Homo sapiens: one gene and its partner. The protein of the gene in region 2 interacts with the protein of the main gene of each other region in a pairwise test. Each region holds a gene or a part of one and is shown on either strand. Other genes may lie near its edges. The genes, in order: GIT2 and RCVRN.

Region 1 (3,815 bases), on a different chromosome or scaffold from region 2:
AAAAAAACGAATCCTGAAAGGGCCTTGGTAATCCATATGCCACTGGAACTAGGAAAGAAAGGCTCTCCATAATTCCTAGGTGTGGAGGGAATGGCAAAGGCCCAGTGCAAACCCCACCTTGCCTGTAAAGGTGGTCCCTTACCCACAGCCACCTTCCTCCTCTTACCTTACATTACCCTTCCATTAAAAAAGAGATGGAGCCAGAACTGGGACGTGGATTTCAAAGCCTATGCCCTTTCCACGGCTTTCCCAGGTTGTGGTCATGTACCACTCTTTATGCATGAAAGTATTTTTTAATTGACAGTGCCTTTGGGAGCAGGGGCTGTGCCAGCTAAGTCCTTAGGACCCTTTCATTGACTTACCCAAACGCTGTGTATGGAGGAGGTGCTTAATACTTACTGCCTGACTACTCTAAAAGAGGCTTACCTGAATCATGCACTGCTATTGAGACCATAAATTATACACCAGTAGGTGAGGTTTAACCAACCCGTACAAGTGAACAGCTTTAGGTTAACAGCTGCTTGCATAGCTCCAATGCCACAAGGTGTTACAATTCTGATTCAAGATGCAGGGACTTGTAAACCTTGGTTTGTCAGCACTTGTGGTGCTGACATAAAATGTGTCACAGGTTAAAAAAAAAAAAAAAGGCATGACATTTTAGTACTTCAGCGAGTCCACATACAGCAGTTTCAATCTGACAACTGTAGCCCTGAACAAATTGAACAAATTTGGCCTATTATAATATCTAACCAGCAGCCAGCTAATTTTCTCGTTGTTTAAAAAAACAGTTTGCTCAGAATAAATGCTGTAGGGTGATTTGCAAACTTTGTTAAATATGACGTGAACATGAGCAGTATGGGGTTAGAGAAAGGGAGGCGCCCTCGATGGGTGAGCGTGCATGTGGACGAGTGTGAGCCTGATGCACTGTGAGAAACCAGGAGGAAGTGCTGCCTCATGCAGGACGGAAGGGCAGTTAGCAGGGACAGGAGGGCCAGAGCCCAAGCACAAAGCGCCCAGGAGCACGGCCCCTCCTCCAGAGAGCAGACCATTCAGAATGTACTTAACCCTTCGGGCGCTTTCGTCCCTCGACCAGGAAAGTGTGGAGGGGAAGGAAGGCAGAGATGAAGAGGAGGTCACAAGTGCACTCCTCCCGATCTGGAATGGGAAAGAGAAACACACTCGGGAAAATACAAAACAAACCAAAAACCTACCACCTTGCCAGCTTCAGTAAAAGAATCCTGGAACACCACACATTATGTGACGTGAGTGCTGCAATCTCAGTGGCCACCAGTGACAGGACCCCAGAGATGCTTAAACCCTTGGTGAAACACCTCCTGGAAATTACTCTGAATTTAATAAGGCTGCTTTTCCATAAGGGAAATACCTAACATAATTTGTCAAACTTGTCAATAATTTTTTAATGGATACTATGAAATGCATATTTGTTTTTCAATCAGGACTGATGTGAAATGAGAAACTATAAAAATGATTCTAAGTTGCTATACACTATCAATCTAATTTTTAGTACAATTACAGTGCCTTCCTGATATATCTTTATATTCTAATTTTTTCTAAAATAAGAAAGTACACTGAAAAATAACAAAGTTGCTTTTCCTAAATTTTGTCTTCAGCTATACAAAAATAAGATTCTTAACTTAGGGTGGGCATGGTAGCTCACACCTGTAATCCTAGCACTTTGGGAGGCTGAGGCGGGCGGATTGCCTGAGCTCAGGAGTTTGAGACCAGCCTGGGCAACATGATGAAACCCCGTCTCTACTAAAACAAAAAAATTAGCCAGGCACAGGACCATGTGCCTGTAGTCCCAGCTACTCAGGAGGCTGAGGCAGGAGAACTGCTTGAACCCAGGAGGTAAAGGTTGCAGTGAGCTGAGATCACACCACTGCACTCCAGCCTGGGTGACAGAGCGAGACTCCATCTCAAAAAAAAAAGATTCTTAACTTAGTTCAGTGGCATTCCCATTACATCAAATGTATCAAATCAATTGCCTTAGAATGTTAAACCCAAATATCTTAAAAAGAATCTGAGATAACAGACTCCCAATTATAGTAAAACAATATTGTAATTTTACCACACTGAAAATTGACAAAATTAAACTAGGGTTTAATTCACGAAACCATGTCCTTGCTTTGCATCTACCTTGAGAATTTTTTTGGAAACTCCCATAAAATTTGACTGAAGAAATAATAAACTTTGACACTCAAAAAGACAAATACTACTCTCTGAAAAAGCATCCCATGAAAAAGTTTAAATGTAACATCTTGGCAAAACACATATTTTTATAATAAAGTAATCCAGAAGAAATATATTTGAAAACCTTATAACACAGTATGTATCCCAATGCAAAATAAGATTGTAAGAACCCTGCTGCAGAACACAATCTCTGGAATTCAGCGCTTCTAAGACTGATGTAGAGTATTACATTTCCTTTTCTGAGACAACAAAGCCACACTTCCCCCACCACGGTGGGAGGAGCAGGATGCAGAAGCGAACCTAGCAGGCACACTGAGCACACATGGAGAGGCTGCGGAAGCCTGGAGCCTTCCAGCCTTGCCTGGGTACCTGGGCCACAGACTCAAGGCCACCTGCTTGAGGAGGAGCTGAAAAGACGTCTTGGATTCTAAGGGCTCCAGTACTTAAAGGGGCACATCCCTGTCTAGCTCCAAGAAGGCAACACTTCCTTCTGAGAGTGAACTTTATGATTTATTTTTGTTTTTGGAAGTAGAGAAGGAAGGAAGCTTTACCAAAAAAAGTTCCAACACTGGCTGGTTGAGAAATAATCATGGATGTGGGGGAGAAAAAAGCAGCAGTTCGGGCAAGAGCCAGAATCCCCAACTTGGTTAGGAAACCATCAGCCCATGGCCCTGTGTGCTTGTGGGAATATCGCAAGCATCTGTGGACATGTTAATACAGCAAACACAATGGTAACTCTCTTAGTCCAATTTGGCAAAGCAGAGCTGTGGGGACCTGTAGGTTCAGAAGAGGGAACAGAGTAGACAGGCTGCATAGAGTGAACAGCAGAAGCGCCAGTGGTGTTACTTACGTGCGCGGGGAAGGGCTGGAGTCTCATCCTGCTCTCTTCGGGGCGGCTCGCTTCTCCCATTGGGAGATATGGTTTCTGACCTGATCCGGTCTCGTACATGGACATGGGCCTACTGCCCCGGGCAGACGGACGTCTCTTTAAGGAAGAGTGGTTGGAAGTGTCTGTGTACTCAGAACCAGTTTGCACCTGATATACATTGGTTGTGGCCTGTTTCCTGAGGTTCGAATTTTCACTCTGGAGTGTTTGAAGCTGAAAGAAATGTTTGGCAGTGGGACTGTGTTTTTTTACAGCAAGCAGAAAAAGCAAACACCAAGTAAATGAATACAACTACCAGTTTTAAACAATAAGGACAGTAACAGCTAGCCGGGCTGAAAGTAAAAAGCCAATACAAACAAGGACCCTTTCTTCTGGATTGGGTGAAACACAATCAACTCCCTTCATCACGTAAGCAAATTAAATAGCTTCATTTCTGAATGTGGAAAAGTTGTGGTTTGGACTTCCTCAAAACAAAATGTCTAACCACTTTAAAATTTGTCATGGTGGGGCTGGGAAATGTTTGCAGGCAAGCTGTACACTGGATTATTACTAAGGCTGTTTCAAGCAAGAGTTCGAGATCATTAAAACATCATTTAGGTAACTTGCTTTTCAAATGAGCCCTGAGCAATTTGTAAAGGCCAAAAATGACAGCAGACACCATGGAAGCAGCACAAAGATGACTAGGGTTGCTTTGCAAAGCAAGAAAGACAGAAGTTCA
Region 2 (3,541 bases):
GATCCCTTCCTATGCATCCATCCCTGCGTCCCCCAGTCTCATCTGCCTCCTTATTTGGGATCAGGACTGAGAGACAGCCTTGTTGCGCCCACACCTGGTTTTCCGGTGTTTTTAATCAGGTGGCTAACTGTATTCAGATCAGTCCAGTTAAATGCATGGTCCTGAGCCCAGATGCCACTGTGCTTGGAGCCAAGGCCACCACAGGGAGCGGAGGCGGGGTGTACAATAGAAGAGAGTGAGATGAAGTCCCTCCCTGGGAAACTGTTGACCTGGCGGGGAAGGCAGTCACACGCAGAAATACCTCTAGCATGAGACAGATGCTCCTTTCTGTTGTATGTTCACAGTGCCTAGCACAGAGTCGGTGCTCAACAAAGCTTTGCTGAACTGAATGTGATTTCTGACTTATGCTCTGGGCCTTTTGGATACCTTTAATCCCTTCTGGGTTAGGATCCAGGATGGCTTCCTCCGCAAGTCTGGGTGGTAAAATTTGGGTTTTAACATCCCAGCCACCCCACAGAGAGCTCACAGAGAGCTTGAAACTCCCACCATCAAAGCCTGACTCTGCCCTGAGGCATTGTCTCCAGATGGGCCGCGTGGAAACACGTACAACACATCACGAACAGGAGTAACACGTCGACCTCGGGGCTTCTGACGTCATCCCCTCCCGGGATGTTCACCAGGGAGGTTTTCAGATGAGCAAAAAGCAGAACACAGGGCTCGACACATGAACGGACCCAGAGGGAGGTCGCGAAGCCAGTTAAGGAGCCAGTGGGGCAAAGTGCCAAAAGAAGGCATCTTGGTAGCCAGTGTCTGTGCAAGGAGGAGAGAGTGCTCAAAGGTGAGGGGCCAATCCGGGCCGATGAGGGAAAGGTGGGTAAAGTACCAAGGCGCGAATTTAAGGAGGCGCTCACTTTCAGGTCCTGTGAGTGCATTGTTGACCCCTGAGAACGAGCGCCTCCTTAAATTCTGTGTCCTATGTTCCTCCTACCCCAATGACCTTCATGCTTCTCTTATTTCATCATTTGTTGGCAGATTAGGAGGAGCAGGGTCATCTCTCTCTGCCCTTATTTAGCATCCTGCTCAGCTTTTTCTTCTTGAACCTTGGCAGAAGACTGCCTCCAGAGGTCACCAAAGGGGTTAATACAGGACCCTTGGATGTGTTTGGGCCATGCTGTGTTTTATCAGTTGAGACACACTGGATTTTTAAAGTCTTCATGGCTGGCTTCTCTTAAAAAAAAATCAGATGATGTCTCAACCACGGGTTCCATAGCCCCACATGGAATATGCTGGAAGCCATCAGACCAGAGGTGCACCCTCTGCTGTTTGCCAATCCCCACTGCTTGTAGATGACTGTCCACATAACTCGTTTTCATCATTCCTGCCCCTCCAGCCATATGTGTTTGCAGCCCCAGCCTAATACCAGCTCCTTTACCGCATCCTTGTGCTGGCCGTAAGCATCACAGACACACAGCCCCAGCAGCCGAGTGCTGGAGTCCATCACTGCCTACAGTGCAGGATCACACTTCCTGGGGGCTGCTTCCAGCCACTGACTGACAGGGCAGGGGCACCAAGACTGACAGGGGCACTGAGGACACCCCATCGACTCTGTCAACACTTCCTCAGACTGCACTGCAGTCTCGGGCATTACTTACCTAATCTTCCTTTCTTTCCTAACCTTCCTTTCTTTCCTAACCTTCCTTTCTTTCCCTCTCTCCCTGCCAGGGGTCAGATCTGCTTGGCAGTCTGATAGCTTTCCCAGCCTCCTCTCGATCCCAGCCTGTTTTCCTTCTTCAGCCTTTCCTCCCATAAATCTCTTGCAATCTCATTTAAATCTAATCCTATCTTGGTGGTGTTTCTCAGAGGACCCAAACCAACTTCCCAAAGTAAAACCATAGAAATACAGATCCCACTGACTTGGGACTCGATATTAATTCAAAGCTAGGGTGAGCTGAAGTTTGCTCTTGTTCTAATTGCACAGAAAACAGTTTTGGCTCCTGCTCACCCTTAAGGCCATTCCCCTGTCCAACCCTTCAAACAGCTCTGAAAATGCACAATGGAATGAGGTGTCCCCCATCCTGCCTGGACACTGTGACTCAGAAGAATAAATCTTGTTGGGATTTCCAGGAAACAGCCCATGGTTGAAAAATCAAAGGCAATGAAGGAAAAGGAATTCACCATCATCATTCTTTCCAAAGTACTTCCAGATCTTCTCGGCTCGCTTTTCCGGCGTGTTTTCATCGTCTGGAAGGAGCTTCACGTCCTCGGGAGTGATCATTTTGAAAATAGCCTGTACCAAACAGAAAGAAAGAACTCGTTAGGAGGAACTTTAAGGGGCTGGCAACCCTGGAAAATCCACATCTTACACTGTACACAAAAATCTACTCAAAATGGATTAAAGACTTAAACATAAGACCTCAGACCGTCAAACTGCTGGAGGAAAACGTAGGGGAAAAGCTTCTTGGCACTGGTCTTGACGATAATTTTTTGGATATGACACCAAAAGCAAAGGCAACATAAACCAGAATAAACAAGCAGGATAGCATCACACTAAAGAGCTTCTCCATGTCAGAGGAAACAATGAACAAAATCAAAATGTAACTTATGGAATGGGAGAAAACATTCGCAAACCATTTGCGTTCTGCCTCCCCGGAGACACCTGTGAGCAGGTCAGGCAGGGGCAATAATGGCTGTGAAATTATCCTGGAGGGAAGGTCGACAGCTTTGAGAAGTTTCCCTTCAGCCCCCTGGTGCTGGATAAAGGAGTAAAGAGGCCAAAGCCACAGCCCAGGGCAGCAGCGTCGCTGGCAGCACTCAAAGCCCTGAGCTGGACGCCAGTGTAGGTGGCTCCTACACTCCTATCCATCTGTGCAGGGCCTTGGGCACCATGTGCAGGTGTGCCAGCTAGAAGCTGGCAGTGAGTGCCTGCCCACCCCACTTCCAACACGGAGGGACAGACCTCCAGAGCCTCAGGAAAGACTGCAAAAATAATCAAATCCTCACCCTGGGCCCAGGAAGGTTATATGGTTTTCCCACAGCAACACTGCTAGTTGGAGTCAGAGCTGGGACTAGAACCCTTCACTTTTAACTCCCTCAGTCAGTGCTCTGCCCATGAACTTGTAATCTGGTGAATAGCAGAGCCTTCTGCCACCTTGCACAGCCCCAGCCATTGATGGAGTCTCCCTCCCTCCCTTTCCTTTCTTCTTTCTTCCTTTCTCTCCTCCTTTCCTTCTCCTCCCTCCCTTCCTTCTCTCCTTCCCCTTGCTTCCCCCTCTTTCCTTCCTGACTCCTACCTTCCCTCTCTCCCTCCCTCATTTCCCCCTCCTCCCTTTCCTCCTCCTTTTATTCAATGAGTATCAATTTGTAGGCTTCTGCTGGGCCCTGCATTGTTTATGCCACTCTGAAGACTTAGTCCCTGTCCCAGGCCACCCAGAGACCCCACAGCCAATCCGAGGGAGCTTTCTCTGCAGGCTGTGCCAAGATAACAATGAGAGAGACACATGCCTGCCAGAATGGGAGGCCCGAGCTGAGCATTGAGGATAAG

The links.
Region 1: the proteins of RCVRN (region 2) and GIT2 interact in a two-hybrid assay, tested with the Homo sapiens proteins (one large-scale study listed by BioGRID and IntAct).

The regions. Positions count from the first base shown.
Region 1 is NC_000012.12:109,944,195-109,948,009, forward strand, and holds part of GIT2 (ARF GTPase-activating protein GIT2), read right to left. Parts: exon of another isoform or gene 3,311-3,815; coding exon 3,062-3,310; intron 1,156-3,061; coding exon 1,066-1,155; intron 1-1,065. UniProt on the Homo sapiens protein: GTPase-activating protein for ADP ribosylation factor family members, including ARF1.
Region 2 is NC_000017.11:9,898,814-9,902,354, forward strand, and holds part of RCVRN (recoverin), read right to left. Parts: intron 2,288-3,541; coding exon 2,176-2,287; intron 1-2,175. UniProt on the Homo sapiens protein: Acts as a calcium sensor and regulates phototransduction of cone and rod photoreceptor cells. Modulates light sensitivity of cone photoreceptor in dark and dim conditions.